2 separate regions of the Homo sapiens genome follow, and region 1 is linked to region 2. The links come from fine-mapping of genetic effects on gene expression. A gene starts in region 2. The other region holds a variant in brackets. All regions are shown on one strand. Distances are between the middles of the regions.

Region 1 (9,475 bases), 120 kb before region 2:
AATAATGTTACTAAACTTAAAAATATTTCAGCCTCCTCATAATTTTAATCATATTATTGTACACTTTACTATTTATTTATTTCATAATAAATAGAAATATTTCTTTCTTTAATAAGAAATAAATAGAAATATTTCTTTCTTTAATAAGAAATAAATAGAAATATTTCTTTCTTTAATAAGAAATAAATAGAAATATTTCTTTCTTTAATAAGAAATAAATAGAAATATTTCTTTCTTTAATAAGAAATAAATAGAAATATTTCTTTCTTTAATAAGAAATAAATAGAAATATTTCTTTCTTTAATAAGAAATAAATAGAAATATTTCTTTCTTTAATAAGAAATAAATAGAAATATTTCTTTCTTTAATAAGAAATAAATAGAAATATTTCTTTCTTTAATAAGAAATAAATAGAAATATTTCTTTCTTTAATAAGAAATAAATAGAAATATTTCTTTCTTTAATAAGAAATAAATAGAAATATTTCTTTCTTTAATAAGAAATAAATAGAAATATTTCTTTCTTTAATAAGAAATAAATAGAAATATTTCTTTAATAAGAAATAAATAGAAATATTTCTTTCTTTAATAAGAAATAAATAGAAATATTTCTTTAATAAGAAATAAAGAGAAATATTTCTTTCTTTAATAAGAAATAAATAAATAGATAAGAAACAGCATATTATTTTGTTATCTCTAACGAAGTTGTACTCTCTGGTTGATGTTACCTTGTTTCTAATAGAGTTAAGGATTTTCTTCTGTTTAATTTCACCCACAGTTGGTGAGAGTCCCCATTACATGCCAAACAAAGTGTTGAAGCATTATGGGAAATGCTAAGATAAATAAAATCAAGGAGTTTTCCAAGTAGCAGAAAGTGTTTCAAAACCACCAAATAACTCAGACATGAGACCAGGCAAGCAAGGTGGCATGAGGAAGTCCAAAGAAAATGTTCTGTGGAGAAAAGGCACCGTTTCACCTCTGTAGGAGGGTGTTGGAGGCGTGTGGAGGAGAGGCCATTGGGGGTAGCCCAAAAGCCAAGTAGGAAGTGGGGAGAAGGGATTTGGGGCCCAGAGAAAGACATGCAGGGGCTTGAGTTGAGCCAACAAACGGCGTATTTGGAGGCTGGTTTGCCTGGATGGTAGGGCTTTGGAGCGGGTAATGGAGAAGGTGAGACATGTGGGTTGGGACAAGAATATCAACGTAAGGAACGTGCATGTGATTCAGAAAGCAGCAGGAAGTTAAGGAAGTATTTTTGAGCAGGGTTATGATGCATTTGAGGAAGATCAACTTAGTGGAATTTTAAAGGATAATGTGGTTCTCAACATTTTCTTTCATTAGCATCCCTTAGGGAGACATGAATGAGAGAAACTAAATACTAAGGAATAAGATTTTGTCAGGTAGGATTGAGCTTTGGAAGGTTGTAGCCATCACAATGTCTAAGATTCCTTTGTCCTCCCAAGAATCAGTTTTCACTTCCTTCCCTTGTGGGTAATTTCACCCCCACTGAGAATTCGTGGGGAGCAAGGGAGTATGGTTTAGTTATTGAAAAAGATATGAAGCCTCAGCTCGGCGTCATTCTGCTGCAGAATGGAGACCATGTCTGTCTTTCATATTGCTGCTTCCCCAGCACCTTGTGCAGTGCCTGACATGCAGAAGGCACCCAACAAGCCCTTGTGAGTGAAGGATGTGGAACTCACTTTAATGTAAGAGTTGTGAGGTTATTAGAAGAGTGGCAGAGGCTCATTAATTCCAAGTAAATACAATGTAAAGTCTAGGTGGTCATACTGCTTCGATCAGACATTAAATCAAACAAATAGATAAAAGTAAAGTGATTTCATCTTAATAACATTCTCGGAAATCTTGGGAGAGCCAGCCCCCTGTTTCCACGGCAAAGTGAAGCGGAAGCTTAAGGCAGTTACCTTGAAATTCTTGCCAAACAAGGTGGAAAATCCAACAACTGCTTTTATCTTGGTTTTGCTACAGCAAACTATGCAAATTGCCCAAGAATGGAATGACTGAATGTGTATTTAAAACCACAAATAAATTGTTCATTAACATTTCAGATCAATCCAGATCTGGCTAAAGGATCTGAAACATTTTGCTTGCATTCATGTTGAAATCAGTGTTTCAATTTACTTTAAAATTTGAAATAATGGTCCCTGGTTTTCTCAAAACCAAGACCCCTTAAATTTGTTTTTACCTTTGTGGAGTGATTTGGTCCTGGAAATTATTAAGTAAATAATCCATCAATTTTCCTTTAAGACAACCAGTGTTGCTATTGCCAGCCCAAAACAAAATTGTTAGCCTAAAAAGTCTTACCTTAAATAAATGAACAGTTTCTTCTGGCTTTGTCAAATAATATTTGTTTTTACATCAGTTTACATTAGAGACCTATTCTATTACAGCCTTAGAGACCCTGAAGATCTTGCATCTCAAAATCAGGGCCATGAATCGCATTGGCTTCTCAGTGTGTGGGGTTGGGGGAATTGAAGCCACAGTATAAACATAGTACGTCTTTCTAGAGCATCAATTTTACTCTTGCATTTTGGAGAAATGCAATATAGAGCAAAATTTTAGAGTAAATGCATGACCAAGATGCATTTTAAAATAAAACGCTTTAAAGAACTTATAAGGCTGCTTGAATTTGTCCTTGGATCCCTTATGTTAAGTATGAACCTTCTTTGAGAAGCTGTGTCACTGAACTTGCAGGCCAAAGTGTTGTGTTTGAAGGTTGTGTTTGAAGGGTCGGGACCCACTCCAAGCCAAGACTTCACTGGAGGGCAGGTTCTGCCATTCCCTCTAGAAGGAGGAGAATAGACTCCCCCAAGGAGACACAGAAGGGAGCCTGAAGCAGCATGGGATTGGGGGTGAAGAGAGCTGTGAGCCCTCTTGGGGAAATTCCTACAAATCCTGAGTAATGGCTGTTAAACTTATGACTATTTTATGTGTGGTTGATGGTTTTTGTGGGGTTTTTGTGGAGTGGGAAGCGGTTCTGAAAAACTCTAGAAGGGGCTGAATTTCACTTTGGAGTAAATATGGTGCCCTGTGGAGACAGCACCAAGGAAACAGGGACCCCCAGGCCAGCAGAAGGTCAGCTCCCAGGGGAACAGAGATTCCGGAGGGACTAGGAGTTCTACTGACCAAAAATTGAAACACAGGGTAGGATTTTAGGCAATTTTATGTTGCCTAAGGGTAACGCTGGATTACTTGTGTTTTGTTATGTTTTCAAATAAACTCTTCATATTAATTTAACATACACTTTCTAAGCACTTTATTCATTTTCCCAAGGTTTGTTTTTCCTTTGAATGATTATTATTTTCCCCAGTTTTAGTTATAAATGGAAAGGCAGGACTGCCATTTTATCCCTGAAGGGATATTATTTATAACGATCTAAAAATAAAGCTGATCTGCTGATAAAGTATTAAAAAAAAGACAGGAAATGCAGGCTGGGCACTGAGATGTGCTGAGCCATGAGACGGTAGGATGTAGTGGAAAGAGCCCTAGCCCAGAGCTGGAGACCAGGTTCTAGGTCCAGGTCTTGCACTCACCCTGTGGCATGGACAGTACCAGGTCACTGTGTCTTCATGAAATAAGGACATTGCACAAAATGGCCTCTGCAGTCTTCCTGGGCTCAGACAAATCTTTGAGAGGACAAAGAACATGGATGATTATGGGAAGCAATGAGTATTTGCAACCAAAAATTGAGAACTGCAAAATTAATAAAATCTTCCTATTTTGGAAGTCAGGCTTTTGGATGTTGACTTTGTTTTCTAAAGTGTAGAAAATAAGCTGTTCATTTTTGCTATAATTTGTCATGTTTTGTTGTTGTTTTAAGTTCACTGAAAAAGCTCATTGGCACGATGTCCCCTGGAATTGTCTTAGACATTATTTGGTTGAAATATCCCTGCCCGCACCATCACTATGTCTGCTGACTGCCTTCTCTGCCATCCACCACGTGGATCACAGCTCACTGCTGCCTCAAACTCCTGGGCTCAAGTGATCCTCCCACCTCCGCCTCCCAAGTAGCTGGGACTACAGGTGTGAGCCACTGCACCCAGCTGTCCAGGCCTTCAGTCTCCACTAGTCTCCATTTCACTTCAGATCTTAAGCAGAAGCTGAACGTTTTCTTCCTGTTTCTGAGCTCCTATTAACTAAATATCTACAGTTTTGTTTGAGTCTGTTGTTTCTTATTTCTCTGTTGATCCAAATGAACAATTCCAGTTCAAGAATCTTTTAAAGGTGGACATGGGAAACTATAGTCAAATAATGTATCTTTTATTATCACAAATTGGATCTATGTTGTTTTATTCTCTAAGAAAATCATCTAGTATTTTCTTATTGCTAAATTTTTTTTCTTTTTTTTTTTTTTGAGACAGAGTTTCACTCTTGTCACCCAGGTTGGAGTGCAATGGCGCGATCTCAGCTCACTGCAACCTCCACCTCCCAGTTCAAGCGATTCTCCTGCCTCAGCCTCCCGAGTAGCTGGGATTACAGGCTCCCACCACCACGCCCAGCTATTTTTGTATTATTAGTAGAGATGGAGTTTTACCATGTTGGCCAGACTGGTCTCAAACTCCTGACCTCAGGTGATCCACCTGCCTTGACCTCCCAAAGTGCTGGGATTACAGGTGTGAGCCACTGTGCCCAGCCCTCCTATTGCAAATTTTTTACTCACTTGACAATATAGATATTATGTCATGAATTCTAGCATGCCCCCTTCATGTTCAAATGGGTAGTGGGTAGATTTGGATTTGCTGTGACATACTCATGTTGGAGGAAAGGTCAAGTCTCTTTATTTGTCCATAGGTGCTGGCTGGATCTCCAGTCTTGGGAGTTTAGGTTCCTGTCTTCCTTGGGACCATTCAGGAATACTGGAAAAATGGAGCGAACCCAGCAGCTTTGAGGACAGATCTCTGTTCTGGTCTTCTGCCCATAATGTCGCTTGTTGGAAACTGATTTAAGCCAGTGAGCTTATTTCTAATTGTCAGGCAGATATTGAGAGTCTGACCCTGACAGCATGTGGGAGTCATAGGTCCACTCCTCAGCAGCCTTGCTACAGGTGGTCGGCTGCAGCGAACAGGTCTGAGAAGACACTCTGCAACACATATGAACACTTACTAGCAAGCAGGCAAAAAGATCATTGTGTTTGTAATCTCACGAAGTCCCAGCTGCAGTTCCTAGTGGGGAGGCTTTGATGGCCGCAGGTATGACAACTGGCTGACCGAATACTTTAGTAAAGTGCAGAGCATGGGGGACTAAGGGAGTCTGGGGCCCTTGAATGTCATTCTAAAGGATATTGGTCTTTTGCACTCACCAGATTGTCATACCCCTTTTGTTTGAGAGTGGAAATGCCTGGATAATATTTCTAGTTAATCCATAGATTCTGAGTATCCTTTCTGCTACTATAGAAGACTCTCCAGAATGGATTTAGGTGGCATAATTGAAACACTCTGATGGCTGCCTGTGGAGTGTAGATGCTGGGTTAGGATCCTTCAGTGCTCACAAAGCACTCCTAGAAGCCAGGCACGGTGGCTTACGCCTGTAATCCCAGCACTT[TG/T]GGAGTCCGAGGTGGGTGGATCATGAGGTCAGGAGTTCGAGACCAGCCTGACCAACATGGTGAAACCCCATCTGTCTCTACTAAAAATACAAAAGTTAGCTGGGCCAGGAGAATCACTTGAACCTGGGAGGCAGAGGCTGCAGTGAGCGAAGATCGCGCCACTGCACTCCAGCCTGGGCAACAGAGCAAGACTCCGTCTCAAAAAAAAAAAAAAAAAAAGCACCCCTAGAGTGCAGATTGCTGATTTCCTCTAAGCTTAACCACTCCCAGGGTACATATTAAAACCAGCTTATGCACCCTTGTTTGTTGCAGTGTTCTTACTGAATTATTTTTAAGTAATAACAGATGATAGAACCACTTCCACTTCCAGCTCTTCCTGGACTCCAGCTTGAGGACTTCACAGCCCTCCCCCAATGAGAAGCATGGGGACAAAGCTCTTTGTTAAGATTCCAGGCCTGGGGCTGAGTGGCCCCTCTCCATCCTCAGGCGGGCCCTGTCATCCCAGGACTCTGAGTGTGATGGACTCAGCAAACCTCTCCTCCCAGTCTCTCTCAAAAGGGCTGCTCTCATGGGTCTGGCCCCTGGGAACTCATATCTTCACCAAGACTGCCCATGTGCAGGGCCCCTTGGAGGCCAAGAGAAGCCTGGGAAACTTTTTGTTTGGGCTTTTAACAAGTTTCGTAAGAAAGGGAAGATACACCAAAACAGGGTCACAAAAATTGTAGTGCTTTAAGAATGTTCACATGTAATAAATAAGAACTTTTTAAACACATGCATGACCAGACACAGTGGCTTACACCTGTAATCCCAGCACTTTCAGAGGCCAACGTGAGAAGACCCTTTGAGCCCAGGAGTTCGAGACCAGCCTGGACAACATAATGAGACCCCATCTCTACAAAAAATAAAAAATAAAAATTAGCTGGGCATGGTGGTGCATGCCTATAATCCCAGCTACTCAGGAGCAAATGCAGGAGGTTTGCTTGAACGCAGGAGTTCGAGGCTTCAGTGAGCTATGATTGTGCCACTGCACTGCAGCCCGAGCAACACAGAAAGACCCTGTCTCAAAAATAAAAAACAAAAAACCAACAACAACAACAAAAAAACACAGGCAAACACAGTGTACCCTCATCAGGAGAGAATGTCTAAAGTCTAATTTAGGGCATTGAAGAATGTCAGTCCTCAAGCAATGGGACTTCCAAGCCCCTGGGACAGACCCAGCGTCTGGCCTAGACTTCAGAAACCAAAGGTCTCTTAACCTTCTCCTGGCCCAGGCAAAGCCCAGATCCCCAGAATTCAAAATTCTTGTGTCCCTTTCAAACGAAGGAAGGAAAAACACCTTTCCTCAGAGACCCAGCTGACATATCCACCAGATGATCCTGCCTCACAGGGATGGCCTTCTCCTGTCACTGTCAGAGAATTCCCACCCTCAACTTCCTTTTCATCTGCCCAGGCGTGGATTGGAGGCTGTCTTAGTCACGTTCTTTTTCCTGACTTTCTGATGGTCTCAGTGTCCTCTGGGCCCCTAAACCAGTGGCATGTAATTAGAGAACCTTTAGGAATTGGTGCCTGACTTAGCTCGATTGAATCGCAGGACTAAATTGAATTAAACAAAAAGCACTTGCAGTAACATTCAGGACTGTGGGGAGGGGGCCCTAAAGGATGCTAAGTCTCGGGCTGGGGTGGGAGGGTACTGCAGGTATTGTTCCTAAGGGGGAAAGTGGGGACATGGGGCACGTTTTATAATTCTTGAAATGGTGTGTGTTATGTTTATTATTTTTTAAATGGTGTATGATGTATTTCAAATATTTTGAAAAGTTAAATATAGGATATCTCCTCAAATTCTTTTAGGAACAGATGAAGTCTACATAAATGAGGTGAGTATGCAAATAAAGCCGTGTATTTCCTCTAAATACTTCTTTTTCTCTCCCAGCATCTGGTCAATGTTTCCAATGAAGACACACGTGTTCATATTTTACCCCCGCAAACCAAATACTTTGAGATCAATTATGTAAGAAAGGTAAGCGTCATTGGTTTACCTGTTCTCCCACGGTGTGGTTGTCTGCGTCTCAGGCCTGTGTGGGGTGGGGGGTGTGTGGTGTGTTGTCACCCCCGGTGCTGCTCTCTGTGCAGTCCGGGGCTTGTCCCAACAAGATGCCACCTGTCTTCCAGGAACACCACCTGGTCCCTGGCTTGTCCCTCACGGTCACCGTTACATTTTCTCCAGATGAGTGGCGATACTATTATGACTGCATCCGTGTTCACTGTAAGGTAGGTCTCTTAAAATTGCTTTTTTTTTTTTTTTTTTTTGATGGTGGGTTAAAACTTACATTCTCAATGGTGGCAGAAAGAGAGGTGGAATGACCACTGAGAGCTTTCTTGGCCCAGTACCGGGTGTTCCCCAGGTCACCAGTGTGACTGGCGTGCAAAGCTTGTTGCCCAGTGACATGGCCCAAGATGGGAAAGTGTTAGGCTGCAGAGGACCTGGACAGAGTCAGGAGACGCGGTTTGCTGCAGGCTTCCCACTGCCCTGTGCCTAAAGCTTCATCTATCATGTGGTGCTGGCAGTTGCCGAAGCCTTTTCAAATAACTTCAACATACTCCCTTAAATGCTAGGTTGAAAAATTTACAACCATCCAAGTTATGATTATAAACACCAGCCACTGGCCTATGCCTGGGAATGTCTGCAGAGGCAGCCCTGGTGCAGGGGATGGGGGTGGTTCCGGGAGGTGGGGACTGTTTGAGTTCTTCTGAGCCTTTCCTAGGTCACCTAATTCATCCTTTGGCCTCCAGCCAGAGCTGCCGTCATTCCTTCTCTTAAAACTGTCCCCTCTGCCCCTCCCTTTGCTCTATAGTCCAGACCCCAGTCTTCAGCTTGAGAAGCCATTAGGTTAGCTAAATTATTGATGTTTCAAAACCAAAACAGAAGAGTATACATTAGTAACAAATGAGTTTCTACTTTTTTTCTTTTCAGGCAAATTTCCTACAATCTGCACAATAAGGTGACTTGCCGTGAAAGCATTTCACTTTTTCTTTCCAAAAAAGTTATAAAAATTTGCAAAGTTAACTTTTATAAATTGATAGTGTTGTCTCTGACTCACTTCGTCATATTAGAGATGCATTTCCATAGGGGGAGGGAAAGAATCTTAGACCCAACATACCCACAATAGTATTTTAGATCAAGAAGCACATTTCCTTAAGAATATGATAGACCATTATTATTTTTTTGGAGTTTCAATTAAAAAAAAAATGGCCAGGCGCGATGGCTCATGTGTGTAATCCCTGCACTTTGGGAGGCCGAGGTGGGTGGATCACCTGAGGTCAGGAGTTTGAGACTAGCCTGGCCAACATGGTGAAACCCCATCTCTACTAAAAATACAAAAAATTAGCCAGGCCTAGTGGCATGCACCTGTAGTCCCAGCTACTCGGGAGGCTGAGGCAGGAGAATCACTTGAACTCAGGAGGTGGAGGTTGCGGTGAGCCAAGGTTGCACCACTGCACTCCAGCCTGGGCAACAAAGCGAGACTCCATCTCAAAAAAAAATAAAAAAATAAAAACAAAACCAGAATATTGCTTTCAGATGGAATATTCTGTGCTGAACAGAAGAAGAATGCCTAGAACAGGCATTGTATAAAATGCCAGGACACATTTCCTGTTACTACCAAATAATGCTAATAATAATACCTCACTTTTATGCAGTACTTTTGACATTTTAATGCCATCATCTGCTTTAATTCTTAAAAATGCCTTTAAGGAAAAATATGATTATCTCCATTTTGCAAAGAAAGAAACTATGCCTGGAGAGGTTAAAAGTCCTTCTGAAGGTTAACGTCATATGAGACAAGAAGCAAGTTTCTGTGCCCTCTTGCCAATACATTGTTTTCTATTCTGTGCTGTCTGGATCAGATGATTCTGTGCTGGT
Region 2 (9,475 bases):
ACCTGTAATCCCAGCTACTTGGGAGGCTGAGGTAGGAGAATCGCTTGAACCTGGGAGGTGGAAACTTCAGTGAGCCAAGATCGCACCACTGCACTCCAGCCTGGGTAACAGCGTGAGACCCTGTCTCAAAAAAAAAAAAAAAAGATAAGACTTTATCCCTAAAGTAAAATATCTTATTTTCTTATGTTTGCAAGTGCTGAATAAATACAAAATATAAAATAAACGAATGAGCAAACACTTACGGGAAGTTTGGCCAAACCCACAAGTAGCAGAGAGGAGGGGGCAAGAAGTCAGACTCCAGCTAGCAGAGCCAGGGCCTGTGTGTGGGTTCTGCCGCTAAGATGCCTGGCTGGCTGGCAGCCCAGGAGCACCATTTATGGGCACAATTGTGGGCCCAATTCACAACCCCCGCAGTGCACTCCTGGGTGTTGTCCCCAGCCAGGGCCACCTGGCAGGGGGAAGACGGGCTCCACAGCAGGAGCAGACCACAGCCAGCCCCAGACCTAGAGTAGGACATTCCTGAAAAGGAGAATCCCAGCAGAGGAGGAGAAGGGACAAGAGATCTGTCACAGCCATTCCTGAATCCCGACAAACAGCAGCAGCTCAGTGCTGCCTCCCACCCAGCTGGCAGCCGGGCAGCCGGGCAGCCTGTGCTGACGGGGCTGGACATTTGCAACACTCTGGCCTCACCTAGAGGGTTGTAAGGAGGTTTTGGAACCATATAAGCTTCAGCTCTGAGAGCCTGCCTCCTAAACCTAAAGTCACCCAAGGTGCTTCCCTCTGGGGCCTTGCCCGTTTTGTTGTGGCTGCTTCTTTCTCAATGCCATCCACTTCTGCACTCAGGAGAGGATCTGGCTGAGAGCTGGGATTGGACCAACTCTCACCTCACCAGTCTCTACAGGAAAAGCACTCCAACCTGCCCCTTTGACCACCCATAAATTCCAAAGAGTCTTCTAGAGTTCAGATACCCGGGAACCACCCTGTGGAGAAGTGGCCGTTACCTCCTTTGTGGCCCTACCAGAGGGAAGAGGGGAGGACTCTTTGCTCCCAGGGGTTCATGTGTCTGCTTTAATGATCAGGGAGCTACGGAGGACTGTGACTTTTTCTTATCGGTGTTTTGCCCCCATCACTTGGCACAGGGTAGGAGCTGAATGAATAAGTGTAAGAACACATAAGTGGGAGCATTTCAGATATTCAGAAAGCGATGAAGGAGGAGCTGTTGGAGATGGTTGTACCTGCAAGCACGGGATGCAGATGACCACACACTCTGACTGGGAAGCCCAGCTTCAGGCAAAACACCTGCCTACCCCATGGGTTCTCACTCCTGACTCCTGAAAAATAACTCTCCCAGGTGCTTCAGTTGAACGGTTGATAAATGTTCTATCAGCTCTGCGGTAGGATTGGCCAACCTACATATATATGCATTTTTTAAATTGAGATTAAATGCACATTACTTAAAATTTACCATTTTAACCATTGTAAAGGGTAAAAATTTACGGGTTTTAGTCTATTCACCATGTTGTGCAACCATCACTACTATCTAATACACAAACATTTCATCACTGCAAAAAGAAGCCCCGTACCTGTTAGCAGTCACTCCCATTTACCCCCTCCCTCATCCCTTAGCAACCACTAACCTGCTCTCTGTCTCAGTGGATTTGCCTATTCCGGACATTTTATATAAATGGAATGATACAGTCTTTGTCCTTTTGTGTCTAGCGTCTTTCACTTAGCATAATGTTTGTAAGGTCATCCATGTTGTAGCATGGCTCAGTATTTATTCTTTTTTATGACTAACTAATATTCCGTTGCATGAACTATGCCATAATTTGTTTATCCATTCATCAGTTGATGAACATTTTGATTTCTACATTTTCACTAGTGTAAATAGCATTGCTATGAACATTTAGGTACAAGTATTTGTTTGAGTGCCTGTTTTCAATTATTTTGGGTATATTTCTAGGAGTGGATAGCTGATTCATATGGTAATTCTAAGTTTAACTTTTTAAAAAAATTACTATTTTTTTTTAGAAAACAGGGTCTCACTATGTTCCCCAGGCTGGCCTCGAACTCTTGGCCTCAAGCAATCCACCTCGGCCTTCTAAGTAGCTGGGACTACAGGCACAAGCCACTGAGCCTAGCTTAGCTTAAGGTTAACTTTTTGAGGAAGCTCTAAACTGTTTTCTACAGTGGCTGCACCATTTTACATTCCCACCAGCAATGTATGAGGGTTTCAGTTTCTCCACATCCTCTCCAACATATATTATTTTCTAGGTTTTCTTTTTCCTTATAGAAATCCAGTGGTTGTGAATAATATCTCATTGTGGTGATTTGCATTTCCCTAGCCGCTCTGTGATCAGCCCTAGTGACTGATACTAGTGAGCACATTTTTATATGCTTTTTGGCATATATTTGTATATATTTTTTGAGAAATGTCTACTCAAGTCATTTGCCCATTTATTAATTGGCTTGTTGAGTTGCTAAGAGTTCTTTATATATTCTGGATACTACACCCTTATCAGATCTATGATTTGTAAATATTTTCTCCTATTGTGGATTGTCTTTCCACTTTTCTTGATAGTATTTTTCATGCACAAAAGTTTTTCATTTTGATGGAGTCCAACTGGCCAGCCTACTTTAAAAAATTTTTTTAAACTTTTTATTATGGAAATTTCCAAACACACACAAAAGTAGAGCATGGTATGATGAAGATCCCTGAACCTGTCATGCAGCTTCACAATAACTAACACTTTGTCAATGTTGTTTCATCTGTGCCCCTGTTTTTTTGTTGTTGTTGTTGTTTGGATTTGGTTTCGTTGGAATATTTTGAATCAAATAGTAGACATTGTGTCATTTCACCTGTAAACACTTCAGTATGCATCTCTAGTAAGAATTTTTTGGTTTATATAAACTCCATGTCATCATCCCATCTGATGAAATAAGCAATAATTCATTAATATCATCTAATATTCAAATCCAAATTCAAATTTCTCCAAGATGCCTTTTGTTTGTTTGTTTGTTCCTTTGTTTGTTTGAGACAGAGTCTCACTTAGCCACCCAGGCTGGAGTGCAGTGGCACAATCTCGGCTTACTGCAACCACCATCTCCCAGGTTTTAGCGATTCTCCCGTCTCAGCCTCCTGAATAGCTAGGATTATAGGCGTGTGCCACCATGCCTGGCTAATTTTTGTATTTTAGTAGAGACGGAGTTTCACCATGTTGGCCAGGCTGGTCTTGAACTCCTGACCTCAGGTGATCTGCCCTCCTTGGCCTCCCAAAGTGCCAGGATTACAGGCGTAAGCCACCGCGCCCAGCCCAAGGTGTCTTTTTTACAGTTAGTTTATTTGGTTCAGGATCCCAATAAAAGTCACATATTGCATTTAACTGCAATGACTCTCAAGTCTCTTTTCTTTTGAGTCCCCCTCCTTCCCTGTTTATGCCATTGATTTGTTGGATAAACCACGTCATTTGCCCTGTAGAATGTCCCACATTCTGGCTTTGGCTGAGGTCACATTGCACTATTTACATACAAACAACTGAGCAGCCAAAATTGGGGGGGGGGGCTCAGAAACAGAACAGACTTTAATAATAATAGCTAATGGCTAGGCGGCACAAACCGTGAGGCACAGGTTACATATACACCAACTCATTTTATCACACAGCTAGTAAGGGGTGGAGCCCGGCTTTAACCCTAGGCAGTCTGTTTTCACCCTCTGTAAAGGATTGGGCATGGCTGTGTTCCAAGAAAACTTTATTTACAAAAGCAGGTGGAGAGCTGGATTTGGTGCACAGATTAGATGATCCCTCATCTACCTCACAGAGCAGCTGGAAAGGAGAAATGACAGATGGCACGCTGCTCTGTGGACTGTACAGTGTGAAGCACCTGGGAGGAGCTTGGGGGGCAGCGAACATGGTAATAAACATAAAGCTCAGAGCTCCCCGCCAAGGGTGAGCGCTTCCAGACGGAGAAGTACACGGGCCGGCCAGTCAGATGGGCATGGGTTCTGATGGGGGCCCTGCCATAGGCCGCCTGGTGACCCACGCGGGGCTGCCGTTCCTTCGGGGGTTCAACGGCATGATCAAAGACACCGGGATGTGTGTGTGTGTGTGTGTGTGTGTGTGTGATGATCAAAGACACCGGGGTGGGTGTGTGTGTGTGTGTGTGTCATGATCAAAGACACCAGGGTATGTGTGTGTGTGTGTGTGTGTGTGGCATGATCAAAGACACCGGGGTGTGTGTGTGTGTGTGTGTGGCATGATCAAAGACACCGGGGTGTGTGTGTGTGTGTGTGTGTGTGACGGAGTCTCGCTCTGTCGCCCAGGTTGGAGTGCAGTGGCGTATTCTCGGCTCACTGCAACCTCTGCCTCCCAGGTTCAAGCGATTCTCCTGCCTCAGCCTCCCCAGCAGCTGGGGACTACAGGCGTGCGCCACCACGCCCAGCTAATTTTTGTATTAATCAAAGACGCATTTCAACGCAGAGGAGGAAGTGCTAGCGGACCCACCCCAAGGTGCACAGTTAGAGAAGGAGCCTCTGCGGCGGCCGGAGCCCCCCACGGACATCCCCTTGAGGCCCCCCCAGCCACACCCCCAAGAGTCCCGCCCCCAGACCCGTCGAGCGAGCTCCCCTCCCTGAAATCCTCGCCCCGAGATCTCCGGCCGGCGAGCTCCGCCCCCTGAAGTCCCCATCCCAAGATCCGGGGCCGGCGAGCTCCGCCTCCCGAAGTCCCCGCCCCCAGATCCCCGGCCGGCGTGCTTTGCGGCCGCCCTGCCGCGCGCACATGTAGGCGTTCCGAGCGGCGGCGGAGGTGAGCGCACGGACGAGCGGGAGGGACCCTTCTCCGGCCTGATGCGACCCGGTAACGCGTTCAGACTGCGGAGTAGCCTAGGGGCCCAGAGTGGAAGCGTAGCGAGGACCCCTCTGCGGGGCTCCTGCAGCCCCTCCTCCCCCAGCCACCGGCGGGCTGCATGGTACTGTGTTCTAGGCCCACCCCGCAGCGCGATGGCCCTAGGGACGTTGGACTTTGGTCCAGACCTTTCCTTTCTTAGCCTCACTTTCCGCATTGGGAAAAAAAAAAAGCCCGAATGATAATGATTCTTATAGGAGTTCTTGATTAAGATAGGCCAAGCGGTACCCTGCGTTTTTGTTTGCGGCAACTCATTCGTTGCTCATTAAGCACTTTTCACGGACAGGAATACAGTAAGTTTCAATCAAAGTGAAATAATTGTGAATTTTTACTGACGTATTCACGGATGAAGTGATAGGATGCCCGGGGATGTTTCAAAATAAACCAGTTGGACGGAAGTGTGGTGGAAAGAGAAATCAAACAAGATTGGCCATGAGTTGATGGGATTGAAGTTGATGGATGTACTATTTTGTCTACTTTGGTATATGCTTGTAATTTGGCATAACAAGTTTTCTAAAACAAAAAGTTTGCTGTGGACACCTGACTATGCCTGTGTTAGCTTGCTAGAGCTGCCATGCCGAAGTACCGGAGACTGGGTGGCCCAACCAGCAGAAATTTGTCCTCTGGGAGTTATGGAGGCTGGAAGTTCAAGACCAGGGTGTTAACAGGGTTGGTGTCTTCTGAGACCTCCCTTCTTGGCTTGTAGGTGGTAGCCTTTTCCCTGGATCCTCACATGATCTTCCTGCTGTGCCTGTTTGCATCCTAATCTCTTCTTATAAGTACACCAGTCAAATTGGATTAGGATCCATACTGATGGCCTCATTTTATCTTAATTATCTCCTTAAAGACCCTGTCTCCAAATACAGCCACAGTCTGAGGTACTGGGGGTTAGGACTTAAATATATGAACTGGGGAGGAGGAGGAGACACAGTGCAGCCCATAACACTGTCACTTCACTAGCTTAGGATTTTGGCCATTTAAGTTTTCACAGCTTTGAAATAGGGTTAGCTGTAGTAATTAGGTCATGGGGTTGTGAGGGTTCAATCGGTAAGAGTGCTCAGAACTGAGTCTAGCATATAGTAAGCACTCAATAAATTGAACACGTTTTTCCTTATAAATTAGTAATCATAGGGCTTTACCATGGGATGAGTGGAATGAGGCAGTTGGAGTGCCGTGCCCAGCGATGGGAATAAAAGTCATTACAGCCATTATTATAAGGAATATCTGCTGCTGTGCCAGACACTAAATGTTTTATGTATGTTTATTCATGTGCTCATCACCGCCACCCTAGAGGTGGGCCATTACGACACACCTGTTTGGCACATGGGGAAATTGACGCACAGAGACGGAGCTGGGATTTGAACACAGGCACTCTGGCTCTAGAGCCCACACTCTTCACCACTATGCTGTGTTACTTTGGTTTAAAAAGGTGGTGTGGACCCTGGAGGATGTTCAGTCTGCAGGCTGACCCAGGGAAACTGGCTGACTTCTCTTTTTCTTGGCCCAGATTGTCCGCAGTGACTACACTCATGGCAGGTCCCCTGTGGCGGACCGCAGCATTTGTGCAGAGACACAGGACAGGCCTCTTGGTGGGTTCCTGTGCAGGCCTGTTTGGAGTTCCAATCTCGTACCACCTCTTCCCGGATCCCGTGGTCCAATGGCTCTACCAGTACTGGCCTCAGGGCCAGCCAGCTCCGCTCCCTCCACAGCTGCAGAGCCTCTTCCAAGAGGTGCTACAGGACATAGGTGTTCCTTCAGGCCATTGCTACAAGCCCTTCACCACCTTCACCTTCCAACCTGTGAGTGCAGGCTTCCCAAGACTCCCTGCTGGGGCTGTGGTGGGCATCCCTGCCAGTTTCTTGGGAGACCTAGTGATCAACACTAACCATCCCGTGGTCATACATGGGCATACAGTGGACTGGCGGAGCCCAGCAGGCGCCCGGCTGAGAGCTTCCCTGACCTTGTCCCGTGAAGCCCAGAAGTTCGCCTTGGCCAGGGAAGTGGTGTACCTGGAAAGCAGTACCACTGCCGTGCACGCCCTGCTGGCCCCAGCTTGCCTGGCAGGGACCTGGGCACTGGGCGTGGGTGCCAAGTACACCCTGGGGCTCCATGCAGGCCCCATGAATTTACGGGCTGCCTTCAGCTTGGTGGCAGCAGTGGCAGGCTTTGTGGCCTACGCCTTCTCCCAGGATTCTCTCACTCATGCCGTGGAGTCCTGGCTGGACCGCCGCACGGCCTCCCTCTCTGCAGCCTATGCCTGTGGTGGAGTGGAGTTCTATGAGAAGCTTCTGTCGGGCAACCTGGCCCTGCGCAGTCTCTTGGGCAAAGACGGGGAGAAGCTGTATACACCCAGCGGGAACATCGTCCCCAGACACTTGTTCCGAATCAAACATTTACCCTACACCACCCGCCGGGACTCTGTGCTGCAGATGTGGAGGGGGATGCTCAATCCGGGCCGCTCCTGATGGGCTCATCACAAGGACACTTCCAGCTTGTGCAGACACCACCCTGCCATTGAGTCTGGAGGGCCCTGTTGGAGCCTTTGGACCTATAGCTCACGGCCAGAAAAATCACTGGCTTTGGAATTAAATAGCTTAGATTGTACTATAACCACTACTTATGAACTCAGGGACTATGAGGGACTATTCAGGGGCTATGAATCTGAGCCTTTGTTTCTTGAACTGTAAAGTGGAGATGATGTAAACCGCCTTGCAAGATTGTAGAGTTGGGTAAGGTCATGAACATAAGGGCCTGGCACAAAGGGTGCACTGTAAATAAACAGACATCCCTCCTTCTTGGTCGTTTTTTTTTTTTTTTTGAGAGCATCTCACTCTGTTGCCCGGGATGGACTGCAGTGGTGACCATAGCTCACTGCAGCCTCAAACTCCTGGGCTCAAGTGATCCACCCTCCTCAGGCTCTCAAAGTGCTGGAATTACAGGCGTGAGCCACCTCGCCCAGCCTCCTTCTTGGTCTTGAGTGCCACCAGGCTGTGGGAGTCAGGGCACACCTCAACACCAGGGTACTAGCAGTTATGTGAACACTTTCCTACAGTGAAGAACCACCCCTCAATTTAAGTGGTGGTCAAATCCCAATTTTCCTCCACTCTGTTAGAGGTTAAAAGACTAGAGAGCCCAAGATGAGAAGTTAGTGTGGTCCTGAGAGGCTGTTTTAAGGTGAGGGGGCCTTAAGAGTGTTGTGTCAGTCAAGGTCCCGTGGATGCAGATGGCACACTCAGGGAGAAGGAGACCAGCACGTGCCAGGAGAGTCCCTGGACCTGAGGGGAGGGGAGGTGTTCCAGAACTCCGAGATCTGTGGCATGGGAGACTTGGCAAGAGCTTCACTCAAATGTAGAGGAAGGAACAAACCATTGTAAGACCGAGGCCCTGCAGGGAGGGAGCCCACTGGCGCCATCCAGAGCTGTCAGCCTCCCCAGGCACAGCGTGGCCAGGGCTTGGAGAGGAGAGGCAGCAAGGTGGGGGTAAGCTTGGCTCGTAGGGGTCAGCAAGGAGAGCAGAGGGGTGGAGGTGGGCAGTGGGTTAGGCCTGGTCCCACTCAGGACCCAGGGGAGACTGCAGCCCTGCCCTGCTTATTTCCCTTGAGCCCTCCGGTGGTGGATGGAGCCGGGCCCCTGGGTTAGATCCTTGGACAGGACCACAGCAGGGCAAGGTGAGGAGAGTTGTGATCAGGGAGCCAGACCCAATTTGGCTTCATGACATCTTTTAGTTGGAGATGAGGTTTTCCCTGGGAAAGTATTTGAACACAGTGGTGGCAGGTCCTGGCAGTAGACCTGGAGAGGAGAGTGAGCCAGTGGGGCTGCAGAATGCAGTGGGAATGGCACACCTCCCTGCTGGGCCCCTCACTGTGGGCTGGAGCTCAGTGTGCTGGGCCAGCTCACGGGTCCTCACACTGGACCTGAACAGGCTGAGTTCCTGAGGGCAGCACATCCTTGCTCATTCCCCAGGCCCTGGTACCTAGGACGGCACTGGGCACGGGCTTGGAATACATAGGTGGATAGATGAGGCAGTGGCTGGGTGAACCAGTCTTCACTCAGGGACACACCATTTCATGGGGCCCCTTGGGGTGTCACCCACCTGCTGCTGCTGTACTTAAAGGGCCACAAGGCCATGTGAGGCCACCTCATTCCTGAGCAGTACGGTCTGGGGCCTGGATTTGATGGGCTCCACTTTCTCACCACTCCCACCCCCAACCCATCTGCTCTCAGTACTGCAGGAGCCATGATGGTTTCAGGCATTCCTGCTGATCTGCCCGAACCATTAGCGAAGGCAGCCTCACGATGGGGAGAAAAGGCTGCTTACTCAGCTCCCTCTGCTCCAAGTCACAGACCTTGTCTCCACTCACAGGCTGTTCCCAGTCCTCACACAAGCCTTACATGCTACCCTCCAACCTTGGCGCACACATCCTCCAGCCGTGTGTATGTGTGTGCGTGTGTGTGCGCGTGCATTGCTCCGCCTTGCTGCACTGTTCGCATCCTCCAGTCCTCCACAGCCCGGCTCAGGCCACCTCAGGCCCTCCCACTGAGAGCCCCCCTGGCAGGTTGGCTGAGCTCCGT

What was found. PIP is the estimated chance that this variant, and not a neighbour inherited with it, causes the effect.
Region 1: its variant is fine-mapped to the expression of TMEM177 in whole blood (TOPMed, PIP above 0.99).

Annotation. Positions count from the first base shown.
Region 1 is chr2:119,552,203-119,561,677 of GRCh38, forward strand. CFAP221 (cilia and flagella associated protein 221) reads left to right here. Exons shown (of 24, transcript NM_001271049.2): 4 at 7,487-7,573; 5 at 7,726-7,824. Among named protein-coding and RNA genes, the nearest start is that of CFAP221, 12 kb to the left of the region's middle. The variant TG/T (reference allele first, on the strand shown) is at 5,556.
Region 2 is chr2:119,674,421-119,683,895 of GRCh38, forward strand. It overlaps TMEM177 (transmembrane protein 177), which reads left to right and starts at 4,781. Exons shown (of 2, transcript NM_030577.3): 1 at 4,781-4,856; 2 at 6,412-7,698. The coding sequence starts at 6,434. The coding sequence ends at 7,369. RefSeq lists a silencer at 4,628-4,857.